Linked DNA regions of Homo sapiens: region 1 is linked to region 2. A link means that fine-mapping ties the variant in region 2 to the expression of a gene that starts in the linked region. Tissue or cell type: monocytes. Region 2 holds a variant in brackets; the other region holds the start of a gene. All regions are shown on one strand. Distances are from middle to middle.

The links. PIP is the estimated chance that this variant, and not a neighbour inherited with it, causes the effect.
Region 1: LHFPL2 starts here. The variant in region 2 is fine-mapped to the expression of LHFPL2 in monocytes (TOPMed, PIP above 0.99).

The regions. Positions count from the first base shown.
Region 1 is chr5:78,647,359-78,650,113 of GRCh38, forward strand. LHFPL2 (LHFPL tetraspan subfamily member 2) reads right to left here and starts at 1,414. Exons shown (of 5, transcript NM_005779.3): 1 at 1,141-1,414. RefSeq lists silencers at 663-722, 1,013-1,952.
Region 2 is chr5:78,509,238-78,511,991 of GRCh38, forward strand. LHFPL2 (LHFPL tetraspan subfamily member 2) reads right to left here. Exons shown (of 5, transcript NM_005779.3): 4 at 547-1,161. The coding sequence starts at 976. Among named protein-coding and RNA genes, the nearest start is that of LHFPL2, 140 kb to the right of the region's middle. RefSeq lists silencers at 745-834, 1,115-1,164 and an enhancer at 881-1,502. The variant C/G (reference allele first, on the strand shown) is at 1,272.

The DNA of each region.
Region 1 (2,755 bases), 140 kb after region 2:
GAGCTCTCTGGCCAAGGGGTAAGGCAAAAGCAATGTGCAGGTTATAAATGTCCCTTCAAGCTCAGTTACTCCGGTTTACCTCTCTGGGGTGAGCCTCTAACAGCTCTGGCTCGCCGGAATCTTTCCTCCCTCGGCTCCAGCACACACTTTCCATAGCGGCCGCGTTGCAATTTCAAAGAGTTCTCCTTTCCACGTAGGTCACCCACCGATGGTAACCTACATGCACAAACACACTCGCACAATCACAACAGAGAAAATGGGACATACAGGAAATGGCCCGGGTGGAGGCGAGGACGGGGGTGGGGATAGGACTTTGTCTTTACTCTGGTGTTGCTCCCATTGAAACAAGCACATGGACTTTCATGGAACTCATGACCATCCTGAAATAACAGAAAAGTCGAACGGGATTGAAGAAAATCCTTTGCTTTTCTAAGTTCGAAGAACACTGGGCCGCTGAATGGAAGGGAAAAGAAAAAAAAAAACTGTGTGCCTAAAAACATCCAGAAACACACGCAGAGTCTCCCCAGTCCTTTGCCCAGCCCGTGGGCTCAAGCCGCCCATCCCAGATGCGGTCTTCCCCACTCCACGCCCACCTCTTCCAGCCCGCACCCCAAATCACTGAGCTGCCCACAAAAATGCAGTCCAGATTTGAGAAGCAGCTGACGTCTGTGGCCAGAGTGACCCACACGCCACGGACCAGGGACAGCAGGGGCGACCACGGGGCGGCCCCCAGGGAGCGGTGCCAGGCGCGCTGGAACCCGGCGCCCAGCTGCGCCTGGGACCCACGCGCCGCCGTCCGAAGCCCGCCAGCGACGCCCAGAGAGCAGGGCTCGCGCCGGCTTCCCGAGGAGACGCTGTTCCCGGCACAACTTTTTTCCACTTCTGCGGCCGCCGGCGGCGCTGAGAAGCAGCTGTTCCCTTCCCATTCCCAGCACCCAACGCCCATCCCGCAGCACCTCCGACCGCTCGGCGCGGTCTCCCAGGGCGCCGAAGCGAAGTTCCCGCGCCAGCCGCGGCTCAAGCAGCCAGGGCTCGGCCGGCCGCAACGGCTCCCCATGCGCCCGCGCGGGGCGCCCACCTGGCCGGGCCCACCGGCTCTCCCCTCCCGCAGCGCGCGCGGGCCCGACGCCTGCCACTCACCCGGCCCCAGCTCGGCGTCTCCGGCTCCGAGCCCGCAGCCTTCCCCAAGTCAGGGCTTTCAGTGACGCCTCCTCGCAGCCACCTCGCTCTTGCCCCCGCTGGCCGCGCCTGGAAGAAGGAGGCGGGAGGAGAGCGAGAGGAGAGCGGGAGGAGGCGGCGGGAGAGGGGGGCAACGCAAGGGAGGGGAGAGGGTCCGCGGCGCGGGGGAGGAGGCAGCGAGGCGAGAGAGCGCCAAGCTCGGCGGCCGCCCGGGCTAGCACTCGGGGAGAGGGAGGAGGAGGAGGGGCGGGGGCAGCGAGAGAAAGAGGCGGCCGAGCCGCCCTGCCCAGGCCCCGGCCCCGCGCCGCTGCCCAGTCACCATCGCCGCCTCCGTCCCGCGAGCGGGCCGGGCGTCCGGGGGAGGGGTCGGGCTCGGGGCTCCCGGCGCGGCGCGCGGGGCGGGACGGGGGCGGCGGGCGGGCGGACCAGGCCCGGCCTCCGGAGGGGAGTGTCCTGCGGGTCCGGGAGGGAGTCGGCGACAGGGGATCCCCGAGAGGGGGTGTGGGGGCCTGGGAACCGGTCCCTGAGCCCGCCGGGCAGCGGCGGCGGCGTCTCCCGGGGTCCTGCGAGGTTCCTCCGGGCCGCACCGGGGAAGCTCCCGGAGCAGCTTCGAGCAGCCCTGCCGGGAGGGCCGGAGGCGGAGAGCGGCGCTGACGGAGCCGGGGGAGAGAGGCCAGGCTGCTCCGGCGGAGAGCGGGCCCCGGGGCGCTAGGAGCAGTTCCCCCAGACCCGGGCCCAAGCGGAAAGAACGGCCGTCTGGTGACCCCGGAGAGTCCGAAACGGGAAAGGGGCCAAGGGGCGCCTGGACCCCCATCCTCGCCGCCCTCTTCCGGAGAGGAGGCTCCGGACATAAGTTCCCGTGCCCTCTGAATATCTAGGTGTGGAAACTCAATTCCAACAGTCACAAAGATTATTCCTAAATAGAATGCTTGGTGTCCTCAGCTTCCCTGCCCTCAAAATTACGGTTTCAGGATGATTTTCGGAGGCGCTTTAGGAACAGCCTGAAAAGGCATTCTTGTCCAGAGAGGGGATGCTTTAACTCCCCAGCTCCGCCCCCAGGGCTGGGAGCAAAGAACAGAGTTAAATGGCCATGAATTCAGGTGCCAGTATTGTTTGTGATTGAACTGTTAGGACGTGGCACCTCTCTAGGCAAACCCATCTTGTATTCCACCCCTCGCCACCCCCCCGCCCCCCGCCCAGTCAAATGCTCCCATTCCCAGTTTCTCAGCCCCTTGTCTGGGACACCTCTATCCACCAGTCGCCCAGATTCAGATTAGCAGTCAATTTTGGGCCTCGCTCCTCCACTCCCGGTAGCCAGTCCCATTAGTTCTTCATTTTTAATGCCTTTCCAGGTGCCATGTCCTTTCAAGCCCACTGCCGCCTTTCTGGTTCTCGCTATCTGGCACTGGATGGCGTGAGCGGCCTCCTACCGGTTCTCTGCTGGGGTCCTCTCTACACTTGCATCCATATGCGCAGGCCTACAGGTGAATGGCTCTAGAATACCCCTCAGGCAGGCCACTTCCTGTTCTAGAAGCTTTCTGAGGCACTTTGCCAGAGAACATTCTGAATTCCTTAA
Region 2 (2,754 bases):
CTAAACACAGAGCAGCTGATACTAATTCCTTCCCAGCCCGTGTCTTTCCCACCCAAGCTGAAATCATCTGGGGGCTGGAGCTGAGAGTGGATGCGGAAAGCAGGCTTGCTGCTTCTTAATGAGCGCCCCCGCTTACATTCCTCTTAGCATAAAGTGCTTGCTGCAGGTGGGACTCACGCTCTCCATAATTCCTCAGGGAGTTGCACTGAAGTGGAGAGCATGCTTTTAATTTAATGGGAAAAACAAAAAGCAGGAGTAGTTACTCAAACTAAAACCAACAGCTTAGACCCCGAGGAAATAAGCAATGAGGAGGACCACGTAAGACCAGAGAACAAGCCTGTCTTCCTGTGGGGTAAGACAGGGGAAAGAGACCCATGCGAGCAGCACACAAACGTCGCCTAGAACGGAAGGGGCAAAGGAAACCTGAATAGACAGAAAGTGGTCTTCTCCAAAACTAGCAGGAAGCGAATGCCCAGTACCAGAGTGCGCTGCACCGGCAGCTCTCCATCCCTCCATCCCACCGTGCCCGGGGTCCTGCCTTCTTACCTGCAATTCCTTGCAACAGCCCACAGACATTGAAGATGCTTTTCTTCATGATGCTCTGTACACACATGGTGAAGACGGACACCAAGGCCACCATGCAGAGAATAAAGATTCCCACAGCCAGGAAAATAGCTGTGGCCTGCCAGAAGCCGCTGGCGATCTCGCCGAAGCTCTCGGCGTAGGGCCCGCACAGCGTGTCCCGCTGGAAGTGCTGCACCCCTGGGTTCCGGATGCAGCGGGCGTAGATGCCCAGGGTGGGGTGGTAGGGCTCCGGGGAGCCCCCGCCCGGGCCCGCCGGCTCCACGCCGCCGCGGCTCCTCGCTTTCCCGATCAGCCAGTCTGCACTCATGAAGGCAATGAGCTCGGCAAAAGCCACCACAATACTCAGCAAGGTCCAGAGCATCGAGCGACAGGTGACAATGACATGACACATATTGATGTTCCGGGCGAAGAAAGAGTCAGGAGTCCACGGAGTTAATCAAAACAAGAAAGTCGGTGGGGAAGGAGGCTCGGGCGGCCCGGGAAGGAAGTCGCAGCTGCAGTCATTCACTCCCGCCGCCGGCCGCGTTCATGCTGGGGACAGCGCTCCCGGACCCAGAGCACCGCCTGCGGCCTCACCTAGGGGAGAGGGAGGGCGGTTAGCAGCGCCGCCAGGCCCCGCCCCGCCTTCCCGCCGCGCAGCGACACCGTCCAAGTCCGGCCCGTGCCCGCAGAACCCTGCCAGCAAG[C/G]CCCGGGCCTGGCTAGCATGCCAGGCGGTTGTTGCACTGGCTGCGTTTGTTTCAAGTTCTTCCTGACCTCACTGCACTTAGAACTCTATGTGGCAGTTAACCTTATCTCTAGGGAGCACCATGGAAGGAGGCGGCCAGTGCCAGGTCCTGCTCCCAACCCAGGGGGCACTGTCCTGGTTGCTGCTGCACTTTTAGGACAGGGCTCCCGCTCCCTCATCTTTTACTGGAAAAAGTCAAACAGCACAGGGATCCAGAGAGGAGGAGGCAAGACTGGCAATCAACTCTATTAGTGGATGTTTTGTTTTGTTTTTAAGTTTGCAAGACTTTTTGCCTGCTGTTTTGGTACTAGGTGAGCTAAGTTTTGAGAAACTTGGACCAAGCGCTTTTGCTTAACAGTAGAGAGTAGCAACACCCCGCTTTTATTTCCTCGAAATTAAATTACTAGCAGAGACATAAGTGTGTTTGCTTCATAGGTAAATAGGAAAGAATCACATGTAAAAGAATAAACAAAACATTGCTCCCATACCTATACTTTATCCATTTTTCACAGGGTGATTTTTAGACAAAATAATTTACACTAATTAAAACTCAGAGGGGAAAAAAAAAAAACCTTAAGAGTTCATGACTTACTTGGGGAAATTATTTTTAAAAGACATTAATGACCGTTAACTAAGCATCATTACAACTGAGTGGACTTGTTGACAACAGAACCTTGTCTATGAAGAATGCATCCCTTGAATTGTCCCAATTCATCCCATGTGCCTCTGCCTAAGCTTCGATTCACCCCAGGTCGGGAACTCAACATGCCCATTGTTTCTCATTTCACAGAGGCCTCATTCTGTCTCCACGGAGGAATGACTTCATTACCAGAAGACATTGCTCCAGTGGCTCAAGCCTTCTTCAGAGGAGTCTGGACCCTGAAATGGGGGCCAGCAGGGCTGGTTTGCAGCCCCATTTTCTGCCCCATTCCAAGGCCAGGAACAATCACATAGCTCACATCTGGGCACATGGCCCTGCTCTGAATGATTAGATCTCATTAACCGAGGTCAAATCAACTCCATGAGAACTGCAAAGAGCCCCCTGGCATGTTGGGAGTGGGGTGAGGCAGGGAGTTATCGAAGAGGAAGAGAAGCGGAGAAATAAGGAAGCCCAGTGTCAAAGCTTAAAATGCCCGTTTCTACACCCTGCACCAGCTGTCTGCCTGCTGGCTGACTTCCTAGTGAGCATGTGACTCTACCCATCCCTTGAAACATGATGTATTTTAAAATCCTCATATCATGGTAGTTGCTATACAAGATGCTATTTTGGGGACACAGCTAGTGCACTACTAGGAACATATGCACTTAATTGTCAGGGTGTGTGTGCGTGTGTCACAGCGCTGTGCCAAGCACTGGGTAAGGGAAGGGAGTCCATCAGGTATGGGTTCCAAAGCCAGCTCCAGCACTGACCATATGGATGCCTAACTTCTCAGAGCTCCCTCGTC